5 separate regions of the Homo sapiens genome follow, and all the other regions are reported to be linked to region 3. Evidence: microRNA targets listed by miRTarBase, many of them from high-throughput screens and not tested one by one. Region 3 holds a microRNA gene; each other region holds the end of a gene's coding sequence.

The links. Region 3 holds the annotated microRNA hsa-miR-206 (UGGAAUGUAAGGAAGUGUGUGG, at 1,671-1,692, shown strand). A microRNA usually pairs through its seed, bases 2 to 8, with sites in the 3' UTR of a target mRNA and lowers its output. Matches are read on the target gene's strand: a 7mer-m8 pairs with bases 2 to 8, a 7mer-A1 pairs with bases 2 to 7 and ends in A, and an 8mer does both.
Region 1: miRTarBase lists ZNF185 as a target of hsa-miR-206. Seed matches in the 3' UTR shown: 8mer at 3,304-3,311.
Region 2: the mRNA of ANXA2 is a reported target of hsa-miR-206. Seed matches in the 3' UTR shown: 8mer at 3,432-3,439.
Region 4: the mRNA of TAC1 is a reported target of hsa-miR-206. The part of its 3' UTR that is shown has no 7-base or 8-base seed match.
Region 5: the mRNA of ATP5F1E is a reported target of hsa-miR-206. Seed matches in the 3' UTR shown: 7mer-A1 at 2,469-2,475.

What each region holds. Positions count from the first base shown.
Region 1 is chrX:152,969,674-152,974,583 of GRCh38, forward strand. It overlaps ZNF185 (zinc finger protein 185 with LIM domain), which reads left to right. Exons shown (of 25, transcript NM_001395254.1): 24 at 770-868; 25 at 1,601-3,801. The coding sequence ends at 868. Among named protein-coding and RNA genes, the nearest start is that of PNMA5, 22 kb to the right of the region's middle.
Region 2 is chr15:60,343,994-60,348,903 of GRCh38, forward strand. It overlaps ANXA2 (annexin A2), which reads right to left. Exons shown (of 13, transcript NM_004039.3): 13 at 3,158-3,696. The coding sequence ends at 3,637. Among named protein-coding and RNA genes, the nearest start is that of ANXA2, 52 kb to the right of the region's middle.
Region 3 is chr6:52,142,731-52,147,640 of GRCh38, forward strand. It overlaps MIR206 (microRNA 206), which reads left to right and starts at 1,619; the gene lies at 1,619-1,704. LINCMD1 (long intergenic non-protein coding RNA, muscle differentiation 1) reads right to left here. Exons shown (of 3, transcript NR_131248.1): 2 at 4,638-4,737; 3 at 4,084-4,207.
Region 4 is chr7:97,738,932-97,743,841 of GRCh38, forward strand. TAC1 (tachykinin precursor 1) reads left to right here. Exons shown (of 7, transcript NM_003182.3): 7 at 943-1,541. The coding sequence ends at 989. Among named protein-coding and RNA genes, the nearest start is that of TAC1, 9.3 kb to the left of the region's middle.
Region 5 is chr20:59,026,321-59,031,230 of GRCh38, reverse strand. ATP5F1E (ATP synthase F1 subunit epsilon) reads left to right here. Exons shown (of 3, transcript NM_006886.4): 2 at 802-928; 3 at 2,390-4,910. The coding sequence ends at 925. SLMO2-ATP5E (SLMO2-ATP5E readthrough) reads left to right here. Exons shown (of 6, transcript NR_037930.1): 5 at 802-928; 6 at 2,390-2,553. It overlaps TUBB1 (tubulin beta 1 class VI), which reads right to left. Exons shown (of 4, transcript NM_030773.4): 4 at 4,577-4,910. Among named protein-coding and RNA genes, the nearest start is that of ATP5F1E, 3.6 kb to the left of the region's middle. RefSeq lists an enhancer at 1,887-2,417.

The DNA of each region.
Region 1 (4,910 bases), not on the chromosome of region 3:
ACAGTAGATGAGTGTTGGTGGTTCTGCATGCTTAGTACTGTAGGGAAGACAAAAGAGGTCTTTTCAGGAAAGACTATTTCTGGCAGAGGGCCAGCAAGTGCAAAAGCCCTGGGGCAGAAGCACTAGAGTGTTCTAGCTTGCGTGGGAGAATGCCAGGAGTGACAGAGTGGGCTAGATCATGTAGGCCTTGGCGGGCACAGAGTTTGGATTTTATTCTAAGTGACATTGGGGTCCCCATTCTCCACAGTGTGTGGCACTTTGTAACCCCAGGTTGTTGGTTCCAATCCATTTAGGGTGTCACCTCTGGGTGCACTGAGAAAAACAACCCTCCCCTTTGCCTTGACAGAATGTTAGGCAGGCTTCTGTCCTCCCCACAGGGCCTGAACTTTGCTTGCTCCTGGTTAAGTAAGTGCTGCAATGCAGAACATGCCCCACTTAGCAGCTTCTCCTGAGAACCGGCTGACCACAGGGAAACACATTTCTGGTCAAATCATGCCAAACAGGTTCCCCTTTGCTTGCCCACTGGCCCTTGAAAGTAGCTGAGCTGCTAGCTGTGCTTACTACTCCCTACTGAAAAAAAAGGCTTTTTTTTGTATTATTTTGTGATGTTTTTTGTATTATTTTGTGATGTTTGCAAGTCCTGAGGTCCAGGATGTGCCACGGGCTCACAGCATCTGCTCGCCCACCTTGTTCAGGCATCCCCTTCCCACTCCACTCATTCCTCTTGCTTTGCTTTGTGTGTTGACCTCCAGCTTGCTTTTCTTTTCAGTGTGGGATTTGCAGTAAACCGATGGGCGATCTCCTGGATCAGATCTTCATTCACCGTGACACCATTCACTGTGGGAAATGCTATGAGAAGCTCTTCTAGGTGGGTGCTGGCACTGCAAAGGACAAGTGGCCAAGAGACTCATTAAGGAGTAGAGATGCACCCTGGTCTCTCCTGGAGTCTCAGCCCCAGACACAGCTATCTTTCTTGGCTCTTCCTTATGTTCAGGGGGCCTTGTGTCCTCATGTCCCTATGCCTTGTGATACTTTGAGATCTTAGGTGGCATGGACAAAGGCCCTCAATGAGGACACTTCCAAATCACACCTTCCGTCCAGCACCTGAGCCGAGCCCTCTAGCTACCCTGGGATACTCGCTCGGCCGCTGTTGTTAGCCCCATTTTGCAACAAGGAAATAAAGATATAGAAAGGGAGGGGACCTGGAGAAACCCAGGTAGAATCAGGACCTCACCCCAGGTCTTTGGATTCTTGTCCAGGGCTCTCTGTTCACTGTCACTCGCATAGCTTCAGATCAGGACTGCATAGCCATGGTGCTCAGTGAAACAAGCCTCTGGGCCACATTATGAGAACTGCCTGAAGATGTGTGTTTGCATGCTCATAGCCAGTGGAATTTATCACGGTGTCTGAGCACAGAGCAGAATATATCCCTTGAAGGCAGTAGCAACCAGGCTTTCCACTAGCTCCATGCTGATGGTCTTCTCTCCAGAAGACACACCTTGAGCTAGGTGGTAACTCCTGATGACTGGAGCAGTCACCCACCCTGAGGGCCTCTAGCTGATGTGTTTCCAGTCTCATGGCTACTTCTGTTTTCTTTTAGCGACCCCCCACCGCCAGGCTGATCAGAAGCTGATGACTCGTGGACAAATTTGGCTGTCCCCAGTTTTGCCCCAAGTTGCTGTCTCCCCTTCCCTCACCTCCTCCCTCCCTGTTTGATTTCTTCATGCTTTTGCCCTTCTCAAGTTGAAGTTGCATACATCCAATATCGTATCTTAATGATGCTATGATAATTGCTTGTGTGTGTAGCTTCTTGTAGCTTAGAAAGCGCTTTATGCCCATGATGTCATTTCAGGCTCAACCAAAGAGGATCAAACAGGAATTCCATCTTGGCTTCCCTAAGACAGATTGGCTTTCTAATGAGTTTAAGTGGGCAGAAGTGTAGGGTTCAGTGTGTCCTGACTCCCTTGAGGCTTATAATGGGCCAAGTTGAAGACTGTTGATGATCCCTGGTGGGTAAATTGCAGACATCAAATGCTAGGGATTGGCATAGGCTAGTGTTTAGCTTGTCTATTTGCCATATCTATTTTTTTTAAATTTCCATACACTTGTAAAAGTAGTTAGTTGCTTTTGATTGAGTTATATAGCAGTTTTTCATTTGGTCTTCCACTCACCTTTCACTATATTTGAGTGTTCCCTTACAGGTATGTTGGCATGTGTTGGAAAATTTACACAATTAGGTTTAAATTCAGTAGGATGTGATTTTAGGATGCTACTGATCAAAGTGATATCTGTGTCTGTTGGAATCTTGATAGCTGATTAATTTGCCCTCAATTCTGCTCCCTGAACTTCACACATAAATCTTCCCAAGTGGGTTTTAGGGTGTATAGATCCCAGCAGGATTAAGGAGGTGGAAAAGCAGCTAACATTTCTTGAGGCTCTACCACATAGCAGGCACTGTCACAGAGTAATGGCATTAATCCCCATAATAATCCTGTGAAGGTGATATTCTCATCCCATCTTAGACATGAGGATATTGGAACTCAGAGAGGTGGCTATTGCATTGCGCAGAACGCTACAGAGCCCATGCTCTTCCCAGAGCAGCACCCACAAAAGCAAGCATTGATTTTGTGCTCAGTGTGTGCCAAGCACTGTGCAGAGGGTACACAGTTCCTGCCAGGTTAACACCCTCCCTTCAGGCCTCCCAAAGGCATAGGCTTGCAAAGAGCAGAAGGTGTGAAATCACACTCTTCCTCTGGGCATCCTGGATCCCTGAATTATCCCCCCCCCCATGAAGTACTTCAAGGGCCAAGCTGCCCCTTTCCCTCCTCTCCGCCCATGAAAATGCCTCCAAACTGAGATGCTTTCAGCTGAGAACAGATTTGACTCACAGACATTACCAAAGAGGAGCTTGTGAATCCAGGAAAAGCTCCAGGGGGCTAGCTGATCTGAGCAGAGAGCTTTCAGTGACCCATTTTCCTGTCTAGACTCTGCCTTAAGCTAGTGGCAACTGCTGGGGCCCCAGGTACTTGGGACATGGAAACTCGTTGGATGGCTGGGCAGATGTAAGCCTGTCCATGCAGTCAGCCGATCCTCTGCTCAGGTTCAGCTGGACTCTGCCATCTGTGGGCCCAGCATCACTCTGTAAGTTCCTTGAAAGGAAGAACAACCTTAGAGTATTTCTGATACAAAATGAGGGCCTCTGCTCTTGATTTAATTATAAAATGTCTACGTCTTTCTCCAGTTTCTGAGCCCTATGCACATTGGCTTGTGGGCTTGTTCTTCCTGCCAAATGATCAGAGAGGAACATTCCATTTATTTGTAGTGGATTTCCTCTGGAGGGCATGTACCCACACTAAATACCAACTGCTCTTCCTCAGCTGTAGTCCCCAACATCAGACTTGGCACGTGGTGGACACTAACACACAGGCACTCAATGAATGAGTGAAGGAAATAAAAGTCACCCCGTTGGTGAGAGGTGCTATCCCTGAGTCTCAGTGCAGGACCAGTGGATGAAAGGCAAGGTAAAGAGGCCCAAGATAGGCTGGCTTCCCCCGTTCAAGGTATAGTCTGCCTTTAAGGGAGTTTTAGAACCAACATGCAAGACATTGAAAGAAATCTTGCAAGAGCCATTATTGACTTAGATCCAAAACAGCCTCTCTCATGTCTAAAAAGGCACAGAATTTTGCAGATCTGAGGAAGAGGGATGCATTACCTTTTTGCTTCTTTTCAATTGCTTAGTGTTTCTAATCATACTTAATCCACACTAATGTGCGCAATTATAATAAATGGTAAGATATCACATGTGTCAGTGTTAAAGTTTTCTTTTGAAGTGTAATAACTTGGTGTATTCAGCTGTGTGATTTCTTTATTCCTATTGCCTGAAGCCATTCTCTGTACAAAAGTAAACAAGTACTTAATAGCAAGCTCTAGACACTGGGCATGCACAGGAACTGTGGAATTCTAGACACATCAAATCTTAATGAAGAATATTGTATTGTGGCGGCAGAGAGCGGGGGCGGTCCATCCTTCTCATGATTACCACTGCAGACAGACAGCCACCTAGTCATTAGTGCCCACTTCCAGTGACCAGGAGCTCAGTTCCTTACAAGCCCCTGCTGTCTGTGGTTTTAGAAGATGCATTCTTCAGTTGAGTTAAAGTCCATTTCTGTATGTCACCCACTGGTGGTCTTTAATCCCTCCGCTAGATGCCAGCTCTTAAAATAGATGAAAATACTTCTCAGATTCTGTCTTGGTCAACTCTTCTCACATTTAAACACCCCTGGTCCCTCTAACTCTTCCTTGACAGTAATTCTGAATACACATCTCTCAAAGGCCCTCCTCAAAGGTGACCCCAACACATACTCCAACTCATTCCTCTAGATGTGTACCAGTGTAATCTGCATGCGATCCAAGTCTTGATTCAACCCAGGGACAGGAAAGGGTGATCAGGAAGTCCAAAGATAGACATAATACTCCGAGAACTCCTTCTGCCACTGAGTAGGGGCCTCAGGGCCATTGGACTAGTGTCCCTCTAGCTATTTTCTCACCCCAACTTTGGCCTTCATCTTGTTACAATGGGAAGGAAGGAAGAGCTTTTACTAATTCAAATGACAAGGACTGCAACAGTAGCTCCTAACTAGGTATTTGTAGGACTTTTAATTGGTGACAGTGTGACACAAAGACCTAAAGGAAAAATAGGGGAGGGTCATTCTGAAACAGCAAGTCGATCCTATTGTTGGGCCTCCTCCATTACCATGACTCCTCCTTTCTATCCCAGGTTTGTATCTGTGACGGTCTCCTACCCATGCATCTCTATGTCCTCTGGGGACTGCTCCTTGCTTAGGATTGTGTTTGGCCTGTGGATTTTCCTCCCCAGAATGTATTCCTCTTGTGAAACTTCTCTGTACAGT
Region 2 (4,910 bases), not on the chromosome of region 3:
CCTTTGACTCCCTCCCAATTTTGCCCAGAGCTTGCCTAGCTTTTGCACCGAATGCAGGCTATTTAAAGCTGGAATTGTTGAGTTTGGATTTCTGTCAGGGATTTCTATCTGGTTCCCTCTCCTCTAACATTCTACTGCGAGGAACAAGACCGAGAGGCCTGATTAGGGACACAGAGCTGGGAACAGCACAAATGCAAAAGAGGACTGGCAAAGTGTTTTTGTTTCAGGGGAAAGTGTTTTTGTTTCAGGAAACCTGCTGACATAGGGAATGCTTCTGTTTTTCTGCAGAAATGCTGCCTTCAGTGGACAAAATTCAGCCACAATCAAGCTAATTGAGTGCACAAATGTAATATTTTTCCAGGGCACCTCCAATTTAATGCTTGATGAAATTGTGTCTTTCGCATATATTTACAAAAGCTTTTCTTCATCCAGAAATGTCTGTTAAAATTGCTTATAGATGCTGAGATAGCAAATCACTCTTCTAATGTAATGAGGTAAGTCATCTCTATAAACTTTGCTTGCTCAAATGTACTCGCGTAAAAGAAATCGGGCTACAAGCTTTTCTCAATAAATAGAATGAACAACTAGAACTTGATGGCTGTAGCATGTTCTGCCTCACTGCTAAGGGATGTTTAAAATTGCTCGCACTCTCTCTCCTCGCTCTTGCAGCAGAGTTTTCATTTTGGTAGTTGATGGAAAAAGGAGGTCAAATAAACCGATGTGGATAAGAAGCCAAAGCCGTTTGTCAAAACACAGGGAGAGGACTGGAGACGGGAGTCATTTAAAAACTAAAAATTGATTTAAAAGATTTCTGTCCTCAAATCATTTGTCTTGCTAAATGTAGCCATTTTGTGAGCCTGGTTTTCCCTGCTGTAGCTATATTTACTAATAGTTTATACCATGGGAACTTCACATACTGGGGAAGATTCATATATACAGCCATTTGTGCATAGCCCAGTAAAACTGGTCTGAAGATCAAGTCCATGGAGAAGTCAAGACCTTTCGGGGTTCACCCATTTGTTTCTCAATAAGATTTGCCTTCTAACTTTTTTAACTGGAAGGGCAACTCTGTAGCAAAAGGCGGAAAAGACCATCTCACACACACCTAGGTCACAATACAGGGCTGTCATGTATGGCTGCACAGGTTGTGCACTGCACAACACCAAGGGAGGTATCATTCACATAGACTACAACAGGATGAGTGTTCTCTGGGGTTGTGCAACATGATGGCTCTGCCCAGCCCCACCAAGGCAGGGAGAAAAAAATCATGTTCTTGATCACAGTGTTACAGTACAATAAGTTTTCATAGCTACATTGCATCAATTACCTTTTATTCCTCAAAGAATAAAATCAAAGTTCTTGTTACCAACTCACAGCCTGCCAGGTACCCTTTTCCTTCTCTTTGCAAAGTAAAATTTCTGGGGAGAATAAGTCAAACCTCCAGATGGTTCTCTTTATTCATGAAACAGTTTGGACAGCTTGACTGAAGAGGACAGGCTGAAATCCAGAAGAAAATGGGACCAAAATTCAAGTGCCCTGGCTGTGAGTTTTGGAAAACACTGGACTGCCATTGCTTTGTATAGAGGAAAAACAGTAGACAGTGTTTGAAACAGTTCTCCAAGCGCCTTTCCTATGTTGGCCTGCCCTTTCAACTTTCCCACATACCTGTTGGCCACACCAGTGGCCAGACTGTCCTGGGCACAGTGGGAGCGTAAGTTTCCCCATATTCACCCCATGGCCTTGTCTGCTCCACACCACTGCTCCCTTTGCAGCCTGAAACACACGTATGATTGAGAGGTAACAATGCCTAAATGTTCACTGATCTGAAACACTGCTCCTGACAGTCTCTGCCCAGCCCTATCAATTCTGAGTTCAGTATAATTTGGGGTTAATGAGAAAGGTCCTGCTTCTTAGGCAGTTCCTTGAACTCTGCCCAAGCACACAGAACAGTATATTCTGTGATTTGGGGCATCCATTTTAATATGTATAGGCAGGACACATTTGATAAAATACCTGATTTTTGCATAACCTGCTTTTTAAGGACTATCTCAGGGGCCTTTCACATACGTTATGGGCCACTAGTGACCCAAGAGCCATGCTCGATCCAAATTTCCATCTAAAGTTTGCCAAAGGGCCAAAATAGCAGCCAATCAGCTCACGGATGTATTTGGTTTGGTCAATGCCATGTTGTTACGACTGTTGTTTGAATTGAATTTGAATGCCTCAAGCAAGGCAGGCATTCCCCATTTTCCCCAGATTCCCCACTTCTGTCCAACCTGCCCATTTCATACATTCATTTCCATTACCTACCTAGTCCCTGCAGATGACTGAGTGGGCCCTGCATCAGCCAGGTGCCAAAAATGAGTAGTTGACACACCCTCCACTAAGGAGAAGGGTTAGGAGGAGTAGTCAACTTCCCCTCACTCCCAGCCCTCTACCCTGCTTATGGGGAGCACTTGTATAAAAAGGAATCTGCAGAACCCAGTACCAGCAGCCTGGGGACAGCACCTTCACATTTATGAACACAGATAGATACATATATATACATGCGTATGCAGTCTATCCATGAAAATGTACTGGAAACCAGGCGACTCCAGGGAAGGCCACTGGCTAGTAAGGGAGAGACATAACTTTCCCTGTACAGAAAGAAGTCTCTGAACTTTTTGACATGTGTACCATTGTATCAGCGACCTGTCATTCATTCCCAGACCCTTAAGAACCTGCATGGAGTGCTTTCTCCCAGCTGTAAAACCTCACCTTAGATTTTAGTGTGCAGCTCAAATTGTTCCTTTTCTCTATCATCTTTCTCAATCCTCCCAGTCAAAAGAAATCCCTTCTCCGTGCTTCCCATCGGCTTGTGTTGGATCTCCTTTGCCAGAATGCTGTAGCCTGCCCCACCCTGCCCCACTGCTCTCTCCAGTTTGTGGCTGCCCCTGATGCTTATTTTCACCTAATTAACCTGTAGAAAGATAAGCAGATAAGGGGTCCCTCTGGGACCCTTTTTCTCCCCCATAGGTCCTCTCATGCCCTGGGCATGTACTGCTGCCCAACAGAACTTTCTATCGAAATGTTCCCTGCCTGCGCTGTCCAGATATACTAGCTGCTGACCACATGTGAAAGCTGAGCATTCGAAATGTGGATTGTGTGACTCAGGAACTGATTTTATTTTATTTTATTTCATTTAAATTTAACTTAAATAGCGACACTTGGATAGGGGCAACCATACTGTACAGCTCAGTCCCAGAGCTTTCTTCCTACAGGGACAGCCTCACCAGCTGAACCCCAAGCACGTTTAATTTTCAAACAATTCAGTTGAAAGCAGGGCCACAAAGTACGTGTTTCTAAAGTACAAATTCAGTTTATTCATCTGTTTATGACACAGTACACAGGAGGCAAAGTGTTTCACATCATAGACTTCACTTCCAACTCCTTGGAATGTTCATTTCTTTGGCTTACAGGAGAGACTAGACAGGAAGGCCAGGCAATGCTTAGGCAACTAAAATGAGGTTGGGGGTAATGCTAACGTCACCCTCACAGGGATGGCCACGGGGACTGTTATTCGCAAGCTGGTTTTCTAGACCTGTTAGCTGGAAGCATGGTGAGCACCATTTCTGGACGCTCAGGCCGTGTCGGGCTTCAGTCATCTCCACCACACAGGTACAGCAGCGCTTTCTGGTAGTCGCCCTTAGTGTCTTGCTACAATGGCCCAGGAAAGAAAAGAAACGTGGTATCAGAAAAAAGCCCAGACTCCTCAATAACACAGAAGTAGCCTCAACGCACAATGAAGCTTCTCCCATGACAAAGAGAAGACTCTGCAGGAGACCTGCCCTGATACAAAGGCCTGGAAGGCCACACCCAAACCATTGCCAGGGAAGCCTCCAGGAGTGTGGTCGGAGGAGGTGCTGGGGAAGACACTCAAGGCTCCTTAGGACTGTGGGGTGGAGGGAGTGCAAGGTGCTGAGGATTGACATAGGTTAGTGACCAGGGCTGTTCTTACTGCAGCAAGGTCCTACAAACACCCTAACTTTCCTCTCTCGTCCTCGTCTTTCCACAGAAAACAGGGTACTTTCCTAGCTCACTCTCCTATTTCCTGCATTATTAAGGTCAAGTGGAAATAAGCTGGTGAGGTGAGGAACAATTACTAAGAGTCTAACTGGTCCTTTGACTTTAAACATGTGCCCTAATAAACCTGGCTACAAAAAATCCAGCTCTAACTTTATCCTTGCTAACCATGGGCATGCCTTTGGACATCTGAGGAACTTCTAGAAAGGGGAATTGCAAGGGCTGTCTGAAATCTACACAGTGGTACCACTGTGAATGCCATCACTTCCTTACTGCAAATGCGACATCACATCAAAACAGACAGATGCTAAACTGATTGGAGAGATGGGAGTTCTGAATAACTGAAAGTTGTTAGGCCTATCCCAGAGGATTTTTCAAGGAACCAATGCATAATAAAAGTAAAATGTGGCCGGGCGCAGTGGCTCACGCCTGTCATCCCAGCACTTTGGGAGGCCGAGGCGGGCGGATCACGAGGTCAGGAGATCGAGACCATCCTGGCTAACACGGTGAAACCCTGTCTCTACTAAAAATACAAAAAAATTAGCCGGGTGTGGTGGCGGGCGCCTGTAGTCCTAGCTACTTGGGAGGCTGAGGCAGGAAAATGGTGTGAACCCAGAAGTCGGAGGTTGCAGTGAGCCGAGATTGTGGCCACTGCACTCCAGCCTGGGCGAGAGAGCAAGACTCCGTCTCAAAAAAAAAAAAAAAAGTAAAATGTAACTGATCTTCCAAGCCTCTTCGGGATGTCAGCAAGCCTTGCAGGATCATCGTCATGAACACCGATGATCATTGTAGAGTAACAGATGTGAAAAATATAAAACATCTGCCTGATTGTACAAAGTCCAGGACAA
Region 3 (4,910 bases):
TGCAAACCCTCACTCCTCACAACTCAAATGCCAAACACTTTGGAGGATCTCCATCTGACAGATGTAACTAGTTAAAATGGACATTTATTCAGCTCTTAAGTTCCCTGGTTCTATGAAAGAAATGAGACATTTTTATTTTCTTAGAGGCACAGACACACCTCCTTCCTCCTTTGACCAAGCTGCCTCCCTGCCATCAGCCCCTGATAGTGTGTTTTTGGTTGCCCACTGCCCCCAAACTTAGAGAAGGAAGGGTAGCCCCAAACTCTCACTTCTATGAAGTTCATACTTGACTATGGGAGAAAACAGTGTTTTCAGAGCAGAAGCTTACATAGCCATTGGATGGAATTGGATGAGCCATTGGATGATTCCCAAGGTCAGCCCGAAAGATTTTGACTGGGATGCTAGAGACATTTTCCTATTTTCCTAAGAAACAGTATGGTTTCTAAGCCACCTCCATCAACAACACCCCAAGCGCAGAGTTACAGAAAGGATAAAGGTACACCAAGTCAAAAACCCATAGTGTTTCCTTTTCTTCCTTCTCAACATTTTTTTTACCTTCTAAGCCTCTCTCCATGGGTTGATCCAAAACTGTGCCTCCAATCTGATTAGTTTTTTTTAAATAATTACCATTTATAAATATGATAATTAATACATTTCTACGATCCTCATTTTCCTCATCTGTAAAATCAGATAAAATGGCTACATTTCATAGAGTAGGTAGGAGTCAAGGTGCTCACATACGCAAAACACTGTAATGATTCTGTTATAGAAAACATACTTATAAAAAGTTACCTCTTATTTTTTATTACTGTGATTAAATGTTTTTAACCACCCCAGCCAGTGCTGTGAGCCTCAAACCTTTTTTGGGGGCCAACTCTTCCTTTGGCATATGTTTCCCCATTTTCTGGCAGAGAATCAGATACCACAAAGTTCAAAACCCCATCTCCCTCCAGCCAGGGTGGCCATCCAGACCCTGAGTGGCTCAACAGCTGCCAATGTCCCTCATCCTTCTGAGGCTCAGGCCTCACAGATTGTGGGGCAGGTGATGGGCTAGGGGGAGCAGAAGCCCGACAAAAGGATCCTTCCCACAGTGAACAATGGTGCTTGGAATGCTGGATGGGCAGCTGCTGCCCATCAACAAGCACCCAAAACAGATAGACGTACAGTAGGAAGTACAGGAGGGCCGGTGTGTTTCTAAGCATGAGTGGCTCTCTGCGTGAATGTGGAAAATTTCTCTGTTGGATTCTCTCTTCTTTTTAATTTTCCCTTCACTGGATCCCAAACATTAAAAAAGAATCACATTCAAAATGCACAAAAACAGCAGCAGTGAATTAATTAGTAGTAATAACAAAGGACTGGATAGACTGTAGCTGCACAAGAATAAGCCAGGGAAACGTGGTGCTGCTTATCTGTGAACAAACAGTAGGAAGGATTTGGTCCCAAGCAGCACTGCCATTCCTCACAACAGATTTATTTCAGCATGATTTGGTCGGGCGGGGGGGATTTAGGATGAGTTGAGATCCCAGTGATCTTCTCGCTAAGAGTTTCCTGCCTGGGCAAGGAGGAAAGATGCTACAAGTGGCCCACTTCTGAGATGCGGGCTGCTTCTGGATGACACTGCTTCCCGAGGCCACATGCTTCTTTATATCCCCATATGGATTACTTTGCTATGGAATGTAAGGAAGTGTGTGGTTTCGGCAAGTGCCTCCTCGCTGGCCCCAGGGTACCACCCGGAGCACAGGTTTGGTGACCTTCTTCCTCATCAGGGCTTTGTGCCAGCAAATGACTCCCTCACCAAGGAAGCAAGAGCCTCTGAATCCCATCTGGGCTCTTCCTGAACACCCCTATCTCCCCCTCTTGAGGCGTCCTCGCTCAGCCCAAGGTTTCAGGCACACTGACTGCTGTCCCACAGTCCCCGCTGTGGCCAGCCTCCCAGACCTGGCTCCTCTGGCCAGCCTGGTGAGGAAAGGCCTTTCCCCCAAAGGTTTTTCACAGAATCAGCCCTCACCCTCCTAGTTCCTTCCTCTGGTCATATTACTTCTGAAATGAGAGGTTTCTATGAACCAAACTGAATCATAATCTCTTTCAAGCCATGTGTATTGCAAGCGTTTCTCAGGGCTTGCATTGTACTGAGGCAGGTGCTGTGAGTGAGGTTCAGGAAACCATAATAAGTAGTTCATCCGGGGTCACAGTCCCCTGACTCTGCTCTGCTGTCCTTTCCACTTCACACCACAACCCTGTCACAAATGGACTCTGCAAGGCTGTTTGAAGAAACACCTTGAGATGCTAAAATAGCGATTAACTCAACTAACAGGCAAGTTCCTTTCTCCTCTGTTTCCTAAACCCCTGTGTTCCCAGCTCTGACTCCAAAGGGCTTGAACCCACACCAAGAAAGTGCTGAATCTACAGAGGGAAGCCTTGAGCAGGAGGGGAGGCTGCAGTCACCCAAGGCTCATGCCATCACCCCACGAAGAGTTTCAGAACAAGGGAGGAAGATGAAGAGGCCTCCTTCCCTCACTTAAACCCCCATTCCAGGATGGCTCTTACATCCCACACCTCTGACTCCTTGTTTTTAGGGTGAGTGTGTGTGAGAAATTACAGCTGGGACCACACTACATTTACACCTTGAGTTCTTAAACAAAACCACAAAAGAAAACCCGAGAAGATTTGACCAAAATGTGCCAAGATGCACAAGACAGGACTGTCAAATGAAACTGAGCAGCAGCAGAACAAGGACATGGGAGAGGAGGAAAGGGAGGGAAGAAGGGAGGATGCACCATGTTTGCATAGGAGATGGCAGAGGAGTGCACAGCAGCTGGTGATGAGGGGCCCCCTGCCCAAGGAGGCGACAGCACCCAGAGCACTGGGCCAAGGCTCCCCTCTGCCCTAACTGGGCTCAGTAACACCTGCAACACAAGCCTCTCACCTCTTCCAGAAACCAGACAGTTATCTAATGGCCTTTAAGGGCATAAAACCTGTATTTTTGGGGGGGTGGAAGGAACTTGGAAGAACATGGTAAATTACTAGAGATGGGACAGCTACAGAACTGAGCACAGAAACTTCTCACTTTAGATTAGTGGCCCTTCAATTGGAGATGATGTCGTTCCCCAGGGGCATTTGGCAGTGTCTAGAGACATTCTCAATTGTCACAACTCGGGGGTTCCTGGCATCTAGGGATTGGGGACCAGGGATGCTGCTGAACATCCTACAATGCACAGAACGGCCACCCCAACCCTCCAACACGCAGCAAAGAAATATCCAGCCCAAAATGTCAACATGCTAAGGTTGAGAAACCTGGTTTTTTGATAGTGGTGCTTTGAATAAATGAAGTCTCTGACATCAGCATATTATGGCACATTATATTTTGCAATGAAAATTACTGTCCTTCATTCTAAAAACTTTGGTCTTCATGTCTGTAAAATAGGCGGATAGCTCAAGGTTGTCCTTCTTTCCAATGACGTTTTCCCTTTCCTAAATCATACCTGTTCTAATGATACACTTCCTTTTCCTATCCTGGAGTTTAATTTCATGTCCTCTGCTCAGAAACTGGGGGTATGTTGTATGGGTGGCTGTGCTGCTGGGGGTGGGGCAGGACGTGAGTAAAGAAGAGAAGAGAGAGATGGTGGGAGAAAGTGTCCAGAATTGAAGAAACTGCACAAAAAAGAGGTTTGTCATTCTGGCTGGCAAGCTGGACACATGTGCTTTTCAGTCCTGATTTCAGACCAATGGGCTGCCCTCTGCCCCCACAACTGCCTGCTTCCTTGCTCCCCAGGAGGAGCTAGAGAAGGAGCAGAGGTTAGCCAGAGGAAGAGCTGGCAGGCAGCAGCTTCAAGACAGCTATGTCACTGGCAGGAGGAGGCAGAAGGTAAGATGCCAGGACTACAGGGCCAGGAGAATGCACACCAAGGAGGAGAGGACAAGCCAAGACAGAAGCTTCAACGTAACCCTGCACAGACCACTCTAGAACCAAGCCATGTTCTGTGGTGCCCTGCTTTCTCACCACCACCATCATTGTGGGCTTTTACCTTGTTGCCATTTCTACAGTGCCTTATTGAGTGCTTTGATGTCTGGGATATCTTATTTATTCCATACAGAGCTCCCAAGCTGGAGTCCATCTTGCAGAAGTTGGCATCGCTGGTTAAACTCATTCTGTGTTTCCTGATCAGCAGTTTCAACAATTTCAATGATGAAGTGCAAACACTTGCAGCTGAGGAAGGGAAACATGTAAAGGACAGGCTGGAGTTGAGAGTGAACTTCTTGGCCTCCAAAGCAGTCAGGATTGTCTCTAGGACTTTCCCACACCCCTGACACTGTCCATGGTGCCCACTAGGGACACAGTGCACCTTTCCTTCCTTGTCATTAAGCCTCGCAACAAGCAGGCAGAGTAGATACAACCTTCTCCTGCTGTGCAGATGTAGAAACTCAGGTTAAAAGATGTTATGTAACTTCCTAGAAGCAAAAGAGCCAGGAAAGCATTGGTAGGATTTGAACCCAGATAAGTGTGACTCCAAGGCCACATGCATTCCACTTAGTTTTACTTGTCTTCATCAGGAAGAGAAAATAAAAGGGCTGCAATGCCTAGCCCCCAGGGAGAAGGACAATTTTCTAGCATCATTCAAACTATCCTTTCTGCCTACCTCTTTTCCCACCTGCTCCCATACATCGTGAAGACTGGCAGGCCACCTTTCTGGGGAGTTTCTTCTTCTTAGTCAGCTCTCTCCCACAGCTCACACCTCCCTAGAAACAGAGAGAAACCAGTGGGTACTCCTATTAGTTCAGTGGTTCTCAAACTTGAGCTGCATCGGAATCACCCAAAGGGCAGGTTATAGCACTAATTTCTGGGTCCTACTTCCAGATGTTTCGGGCTGGTAAGTGTTGCCATTCTTTTACAAGGCCAACATACAAATCCA
Region 4 (4,910 bases), not on the chromosome of region 3:
TTTTATTGCAACAGTCTGATTTTTACCCCTTTGTGGTTACAGATCCCTTTGAAATTATATATAATAAATATAATATAATATAATATACAATTTTGGCATTTTTTTGTCCAGATAATCAATGTATTTAAATTACTTGCTAGCTATATGTTAAATACCTTTGGAAGCAATAATTAATGCTTCACAGGCCATTAAGGTGCTAGTGAAAAGTTAAACAGTATGGTATTTAGATGGCTCAACTGACTTACCTATGGTAAATGGGCTGTTTTTAGTCTTGAGGGCAGTCCATCACTGGGAGGTATCCACAAGGTAGGAAGAGACCCCTACACAATTAGATGCCCCTTGAACAAAGATCAGCAAACTTTTCCTGAAAAGAAACAGATTATAAATATTTTAGGCTTTGTGAGCCATGTAATCTCTGTTGCAACTACCCAAATCTGTTATTTTAGGCCAAAGCAGCCATAGACAATATGTAAATGAATGAGTGTGTCTGTATTCCTATAAACCTCTTTACAAGAACAAATGGTATTCTAGATTTGGCCCATGGTCTCTGCTAGAATAAAAGTCCCACATTTGGTTTTTATCCTACTAGTATTCCTGGTTATTTTAGGCATTGTCCTTTCTAGAATTCACTATGGGTATCTGCCACTGCTTGAGAAAGCTGCTGAGAATCAACACTGCAATATATTGTGGAAATATGCTTTGGGGGCACCAAGTATATGATGAATGATGAATGAAACCGAGTTCTGTGGTTAGATCATTTCCAATCAGAATAGAGACTGAGGCAGGATTGGAAGATGTGCAGATAACATTCTTAGAAATACTTCTGTAGAGGGAAAATGTCATTATGAGTTTAAAATAAATTACTATATGCCCTGAACTTTAGTTGTGTAACTCCCTCAGTGAATTCACTTAAAAAACACTTTATCTCTTCTTTGTTTTCAGTGGCTTATGAAAGGAGTGCAATGCAGAATTATGAAAGAAGACGTTAATAAACTACCTAACATTATTTATTCAGCTTCATTTGTGTCAATGGGCAATGACAGGTAAATTAAGACATGCACTATGAGGAATAATTATTTATTTAATAACAATTGTTTGGGGTTGAAAATTCAAAAAGTGTTTATTTTTCATATTGTGCCAATATGTATTGTAAACATGTGTTTTAATTCCAATATGATGACTCCCTTAAAATAGAAATAAGTGGTTATTTCTCAACAAAGCACAGTGTTAAATGAAATTGTAAAACCTGTCAATGATACAGTCCCTAAAGAAAAAAAATCATTGCTTTGAAGCAGTTGTGTCAGCTACTGCGGAAAAGGAAGGAAACTCCTGACAGTCTTGTGCTTTTCCTATTTGTTTTCATGGTGAAAATGTACTGAGATTTTGGTATTACACTGTATTTGTATCTCTGAAGCATGTTTCATGTTTTGTGACTATATAGAGATGTTTTTAAAAGTTTCAATGTGATTCTAATGTCTTCATTTCATTGTATGATGTGTTGTGATAGCTAACATTTTAAATAAAAGAAAAAATATCTTGAAGATTTTTGTCACATGTCTTTTATTAACATTTATGTCCAATTAGCAATCTTTCCTTTAATAGGTGAAATAGGTTCAAAGCGGTTTTGTCTAAAATGCAGTTTCTCTGTCATGCACTTTTTTTGCTAAATCACTTGTCATGAGATCATTTATGAAGAACACAATTGCATTTTGCATTCCAAAGAGTAAAGGCTAAGTTCTGGTTTTATATGCTTTTAATTCCTTTTTACAAATAGGATAATAATCTATTTCAAAGATATATTTCACTGATTATTTTCTTGTTGAGTAAAACATCAGCTCACTACCATTTCAGCCCTGCTCAGAGCCCAGGTATAAATGCATCAGTGCCTGAGTCTCACTAGCATTAAGATAGCAAATCAAATTCTCACAAAGATTGTCGGAAGATGATACAGGAAGATGAGGTGTTGATAATAGGGCAACACCCTCACAGCAAAAATAAGAACTCCTTTCCAGCATTTCTAAGAAGTGCCTGTGAATTGCTAATACCTATAACACTCTCTCTGTCTGATAGAAGCACATGCGTCAGGAATAAATACCAAGCATTGAGAGGGAGGCTTGTGCATTTTGATTGATAAGTGTCCTTGGAATCATTTTCTGATTGCATAGAGCATGTGAAGTATTGACCAGTGGTGAAACAATGCAGACAAGCACTGTTCAGTGAAGTAAAAAAAATGAATTTAGCCTGGACTGGTGACTGTTGGTGAGCAATAAAACCATTTGTAGGAGAGAAGAGCTAAAGCATATTTTAACATACATATTTTCAATTAAATGTTTTTTTAAAAAACTCCAACTCATATTCCTTAGTACACAATACATCTAAATATGAAAAATTATATAATGGTAAGCAAAATGGAGAAAACCAGAGTCATCCCCTAGAGCCCCACTCCCCAACAGCAATGTTTAACATTCCATTGAATAATAATTATAATAAATAATCATTAGCTAAAATTATATATGTACTTAATCACTCAATGACAAAAATAATCGTCATTATTATCATTTTACAGATGGGGTTATGAAGCTTAACAAAATGCTGGGGTCAGAGATTATAATAGGAGTCAGGATTGGAAATAAACTGAGGGGGAAATAGAGCAAATATCTAACAATGAAATTGATTAAGCAAACGTACTAAAACAACAGAATATTATACAGTCATTTAAAGCAGCATCATGGTGTATTTAATAATGTGGAACATATATGGTATGTTGTTAGACATAAAGCAGTATTTGTTATATATATATTTACATATGTATTTACACATATATATATAGTTTTTCTGCATAGCTGTTGTAACAAGAGGAACAATTTTAGTGGATAAGCACATGGGACTCAATGTCATACTACTCAGGTTTGAATCTTGGCTCTATCACATTATGAATGGCCTTGTAAAGATGGGCGAGTCCCTTAACTTTTCTTTGCCTTATTTTCCTCATCAGTAAAATTAGAATAACACTAGTACTCACTACATGGCATTCAGCTGAGGGTTGAGTGAAATGATGCCTGTAAAGCTTTGAACACACTCTCTCACACACAGCGAGCATTCAGTGAATGTTACCTGTTCCCATTTTAAGCTACTGTTCAAAATGCCAGTGTGAAAATTAGTTCTATATTTTAGCCATAAAAAATGTTTATAGTCACTAGACACACTGAACAAGCAACAGCATGGGGTGGTATTTAAATCTTTGCTTCACAAATTAAATCCAGGCTATATCACAAATTTGCAGTGCTTTGTGCTGTTCATTGCTGCACTAAATAGTCCCCGTGGCTCCTTCCCACTCTGAAATTCTATAAATCTCTGTGGTATGATCCCACAGTGCTACATAAAGACATGCATTGGCGGAACTTCACTCATGCCTGCTTTCCCTCTAGGCCCAGAAACCCAGTAGCAACACAAATAGGAAAAGGGACAGAAACTTCAGTTTAAGTTTCTGCTCAAACAATTTATTATTACTTTCTCTTTGTGCTATATTTCCTTTAAAGTAAGTTTTCTTCACCTATATTCTTTCTTATTGTATTCTGTTATGAAACAGCAAAAAGACCAAACTATATAAACTTACCTGTATACATTATTGCTTTGGTTTTTGTTTGTTTTGTTTTTGTTTCTGCATTGGTCAGGGCCCAGGGCAAAAATAAATTATTTTCAAGCTAATTTGAGAAGGGGTTAATAAAGGGACTAGTTACAAAGTTATGGGCAGCATGTAGAGAAGCTAGTAATGGTATATGGTTCTCCATGCTATGTCCTTGGGAGCAACAGCTACCCCTATGCCAGAAGGATCAACGTGAAGAAATGAGGGTCCCTGTATGCAAAAGGCTGCTTGATGGCAGTTGCCTTCAGTAAAAGAGTGGAGCCAAAACAAGGTGTTCAAGTATGGATGGGAGGAGGAGAGTGGGGTGACCAGGTAATAAATATCCCATCCTCATTGCCACCCAGCTGTCTGATCTCCTGTCGGTACCTCCCACTGGGCAAACCCAACTGGAAAACAGAAGAGTAGGAGCCCTTGAATGCTGTCTACACAAGTAAGCAGCACATATAGGGCTCTTGAGCATGTGGAGAAAGCCGGCAGCTGCATTGGTGGGGTGGGGCAGGGGACGCAGAAGGAAGATATTCAACACGTGTGCTCTATTATCTTGAATCAAAGGGAAATTAATAAGCAGAAATCCAAATAAAGGAAAGTATACAGTAACAATAAAAGTCCTTCTCTACATCCCCAGGGATATAGTTTCACATGGATCCATCCAAACAGACAAAAATAAGAGCATCTTGTCTCAATTTGAGCACGTGCTGAAATCTCTCCTTCTAACACGAAATCATTATGAATGATTTTTAAAGGTATATTTTTAAGGAAGTTAATACATATGTTGGGATTTGTGCAAAACACAGGAAAGATTTTTATTAGATCAGAAATTTTGTAAATCCCCAAAAAAGAAGCAGAAGGGAAGCCACAATAGTAAGCCATAGCCCTAGCAGGAAATTGCAGAGGCTACAGTGGAAGGTGCCAACCCCAGAATAAGGAATTGACCACTGCAGACAACAGACTTGCTAGCAATACTGGATGAGTATTGCAGCCATGAGATAAGGGGACAAAATATTCAAAATTCTTAAGGAAAACAGTATTTAACCAAACTATCATGTAACAGTGAGGATGAATTTGTGGAAGAAGAAAAGCCAACTAAAAGCTGTTAACTTAAGCCTTATTAAAACCATTGCAACATGAGAATAGCTCAAAATAGCTATTTCTGCTGAAGAGCAGAAAGCCTAAGGAATTTATATGTTAGATTAGCCGGGTGCAGCAGCTCATGCCTATAATCCCAGTGCTTTGAGAGGCTGAGATGGGAGGATTGCTTGACGCC
Region 5 (4,910 bases), not on the chromosome of region 3:
GAACAGCCTGAAGGTCACCCAGTTAGTAAGAATGGAAGCAGGCATTGGAACTCATACCTCTGAGTCCCCAAAATAAATTCTAAAACATGAGAAAATAGCACCCCTCCCCGCTTCCTGTTTTTCAAAAGTGGGAAAGGTGATCTGACATCTTTTGGAAACTACAGTGTTGATGGGAGTCCATCTACCAAACAGGAAGCAGGTTTTACAGTTTTGCTAGAATTGATGATGTTCTCTAAGCACTTTTCAGTTTGATTTAGAAATCTTCATTAGGAGGTTATTTTCAGTGGCAGACTTGTGAGACAGAATTCAGTATTCTCAGAGAAGAGTTTAAATAATTTAGAACGAATTGTTTTAATTCAAAATAGTTTTCTCTTATGTATACCTCATTTTCCAAGAATAATATAATTAAAGTTTTAAGGAGAGAAATCGAGGAGAGAATTCATGATTCATGTTATAGTCTCTAAACATTTCAGTCTCTTTTTTTCTATGCTGTGGGATTTTTAAAAACATTTATGCATCTTTCATTTTGAATTAATATACACTAAAGAGAAAACACAGTACAAAGAAGAAAAATCAAAGATCATCCATCCAAACACCAGTTAATACTTTGGTACATTTTTTTCTAGTTCTTTTTCTTTGTATAGATACTTTTTGGCATTAGTCATATTTTTAAATCCAATTCTACAATAAGGTACAACCAAACCAAAATAAAAAGTACAGGAAGAAAAGCGAAAACACAGTAACAGCTGTCTGGCTGGAATATTGATAATTAACCATATACCTTCTCTCATTTTCTCCCAGCTACATCCGATACTCCCAGATCTGTGCAAAAGCAGTGAGAGATGCACTGAAGACAGAATTCAAAGCAAATGCTGAGAAGACTTCTGGCAGCAACGTAAAAATTGTGAAAGTAAAGAAGGAATAATCTGTAAGTTATGGATTTATTTAGAAGAACAGTTGCATCTTAAGTTTTTGGAGCACCATAAAGATCAAAATAATTTTAGTTTTGGGTTCTATTCATTTTTTAGTCAGTGTATTTGGAAGTTAGTTATTGGGATGGTATAATTTAAAGCATGCAGGTTATAGAAGTCCCCTGGCCTAATAAAAAGAAAGTCTTCTTGGGCCCTGACAAGCAGAAGTAATTGGCACATTGATTTTCAGTTCATTTAGCAATGCTTAGGTAGAGAGCCATCGTATTTGAATTAAACCTGTTTCATTTGTCTGCACAAATCAAATAATTTGGAGGATGAACTCCCCACTTGTATAATTGCAATTGGAGTTACATAACAGTCCAAGAGCATGAAAAACTACAGTTCTTTACATTTTTATTTCCCCCACAACCACTAATGTTCTCACAAATCACTACTTCCCGAACATAATAACTACAGGCACAGGCAAGGGTCCTGCTGTTGTATCAAGCAATAAAATCTGCAAGACCCCGCAGCGAATACTGTTTTGCTAATTTATTATGCTTTCAGAGGGTTTGGTTCATTTTACTTTTCCAAAGATGTTGGTGATGTAAAGTTAAATTCTCGTGAAATAAAAAGGTCTGTACAGTTGATAAGTGTAGACTTTTGTGTTCCACATTATAAAAGTGGTTTGATCTCTAAAGTACTTTCTTGACATTGTTATTTCAAAAGTAGGCAAGGCAAATTATCAGAGAGATGTTTTTCAGATTTAATTTTTCTTGTTTTGCTTTTAAAAAGCTTCAGACCCATAATAGCACAGAAATGTGATAAATATTAATCCTTTGGCAGCTTATGGTTATGAGCAATTTTACTTATTGGAACTGTCTCCCCTAAGCACTTTTCATTTTCATTTTGAATTAGTAAATATTTTATTACAAGTCTGGAGATGCAGTGTTTTGAATTTAGCCCTTTTTCTAGGGGCTCTCTGTCTAATCTCATAATTCTGAGTAATGAGACCTGGTTTTATGTTGGGTTGTTTTGTTTTAACAGTAAGCTAACAGAAAATCATTTAGCCTCACTCGGCTCAGAGCTGCCAGACTGCATCTAATGCTGAGATTTTGCAAAGTCCTGGGGGTCAGGAAGTAGTGTCCGATCCCCTTAAACAAAGCATTAGCCCCTCTCTGTTATGCCCTTCAGGGTTACAGACCCCACCTCATTAGCACAAGGAGATGTTAGTGTCTTTTAAAGGCAAAGTAGTTTCTTTATTCTGGGAGAGTGTTTACTTTTACTCAGCAGGAAAATGCCTGCTTGACTAAGCCTGTGTACTTGAACCAGCACTTTTTACATCTGAGCCACGGCAATGTGAATGATAGCCACAGTTATACAGTTCACTATAAGGAAGTTATTTCTTATATTCATGTTGAGTTTTTAAGAAAACACAGAGAACTAGCCAGCAACTTGCATTTTCTTTTTCCTCCTAGACCCTGACTAAAGCTTGAAATGCTACATTTCCAAGGTGAAGATGTGTGGGCACATGTTATGGCAGATTGAAAAGGATCTCATTCCATGGGAAAAAAAAAAATCCTGTCTTGTTCATAAATTGACAATGTCAATAAATTGAAATATGGTTCACTGTTACTCTTGATTTTAGTTTGTGAGACTTTTTCATTTTCTTTAAAGGAACTGTCTGCACAGCTGCATGATTATGGCCATGTGAACCAGGGTTTCTTAAAAGCAGGGGAAGCCAGATTTAATATTTAGTGACCAAAGGGATACAGAAAGCATTTTGAAAATGTCTCAAAATAGTTGTTTCATGACATTAATTGGTGATCAAAATTATCTGCTGTCATTGAGGCTTCGTAGTCCCTTATTTTTGAATTGTTGTCATGTCAGAATAATGACATGGTTATCAGTAACAAATGGAAATAATTATTAAATACTAAAAGTGTAGATTAGAAGAAGAAATACTAAATTGTACTTGTTTTGTATTGTGCACTTAAAGCCTATAGATAAGAACGGTTACAGAATTTAAGCACAAAGTGTTTTTCACATTGTTTTGTAAATGAATCTTTATACTCTGGTAGCATTTCTCATAGGAAATGAGGCAAAGCTATTGAATAACTTGCTCATTGAGTTGATGGCCAAACTGAAATTAAAACCTAGGAGTTTTGACTGCAAGTCTGGGACACGGTGACCACAACAGCAGTTTCGTGGTATTTCCATAGTGATTCATTCATTCATTATTTAGGGATGAAAAATTGTTGCAAGTTATGTTTTTATCTTTCTTTGAAACTTGAAAGGGCTTGGGCAAGTAAAACACCATTGCAAAGTTAACTGCCTGATTTTAACTGTTTTTGGAGACTGGAGAAATAAATTTGAACTGGAAATTTTGAAACACCATTCTAGGATCAGTTCTCACATGGTACTTAAGCTCACAATGATTTATCAGGGCCACTGTCAGCAATGCCGAGGATAAGCCGAAAAGAACATCTTTGTTCTCGGCTTCTGGGAATGACTTATTGTCCCGACACTTGACCTGTAGGTTTTACTGAATTCTCAGCACAGAGCGAGCAGGGAGGCAGAGCCAATTGAGTGGAAGAGGGTGCCTCTGGAAAACAGCAGGTTAGGAGCCCTTGGAGTCCTCCGCCTCGGAGCTGTCATCCTGCTGTTGGCAAGTTAGGGCACCTCAGTTCAGTGCTGTGGCCCCCAAGATTAAGGTACTAGGAAGTATCCTCCATTACAGGGAACAGGAATAAATGAATCAAAAAGCTATCGGGCCTTTTTGACATGGGACGAATAAAGTAACTAATAGGCAAAGGGGCTAAATGATTTCCAGTCAAGTAATTAGAGATAAGTCATTTATTAAGGAGGCAGATGGGGTATTATTGGTATATAGATGGCATAGTAGATTGCTAGTATATTGGTAGATTATTGGTATATAGATGGTATGTTAAGGAGGCAGATGGGGTATTACTGGTATATAGATGGTATGGTAGATTGGTAGTATATTGGCAGATTATTGGTATATGGTATGTTGAGGCAGATGGGGTATTACTGGTATATAGATGGCATAGTAGATTGGTAGTATATTGGTAGATTATTGGTATAGAGATGGTATATTATTAAGGAGGCAGATGGGGTAATTAGAGGTGAGACTTAGGGACAGGGCTTGTGATATGGAAAGGAGTGAAGTCACTGAGTAAAAGACAAGTTTACTGTCAGCAGAGATTCTTAGAGGCTCTTTTCTCCGTGATTAAAAAAAAATCCTAAACCAGTAGTATAATAAACTTCCTGCCTCCAGCAGTGCTGGGTAGCTGGCAGGATGACTGTGCCCAGTGATGAGGTGACCCCAGTCAGACCAACTTAATGAGTATCCCACTAATTAGTTGGATGATGTTTGAAGCTGTCAGTTAATCTCTTAGTTCACATCGTTCTTGTGAGCAAAGTGAAGGAATCGGATAAGCTCTAAATTTCGGTGATGCTGCTGCTCTGAGAGACCAAGGTCGCTGGAGCAACCGTACTGCTAAAGGATAAGCTCTTCAAAATCAAAAGGGACAGATTTCTTAAGTTTCTAGTTTGTTTTGTGTTTTTACATCTATTTCTACCATACGAAAGAGTAGGATGGTGAGATGCATTTCTAAATATTTTTAACTACTCAGTCTGGATGGTTAGGCTTCAAGAAAAGGAATTTATTTAGTCTGAAATAAAGCAATTTTGCCATTTAAAATTGAATTACTTTGTAGTTTAATGATTACTATTGAGCAAACAAATCTTTACAGTAATATAAGTCAGCAAAAGTTTTTTAAAAGGTTTAAATCCCTCCTTCCTTACATCTATTTCATTGCTTTTTTAGGTTTGGGAAGTAAAGCACCAGAGGAAGCATGTGTAAATCCTTGTATAATCGCAGGCTGTAAGTCTTTAGCATCTCAGGAAGTTACTAACTTCAAACTAAGTATATAGGTAGAGTTTCTTACTAAATCTAGTGCTTCTTGAACCACAAGT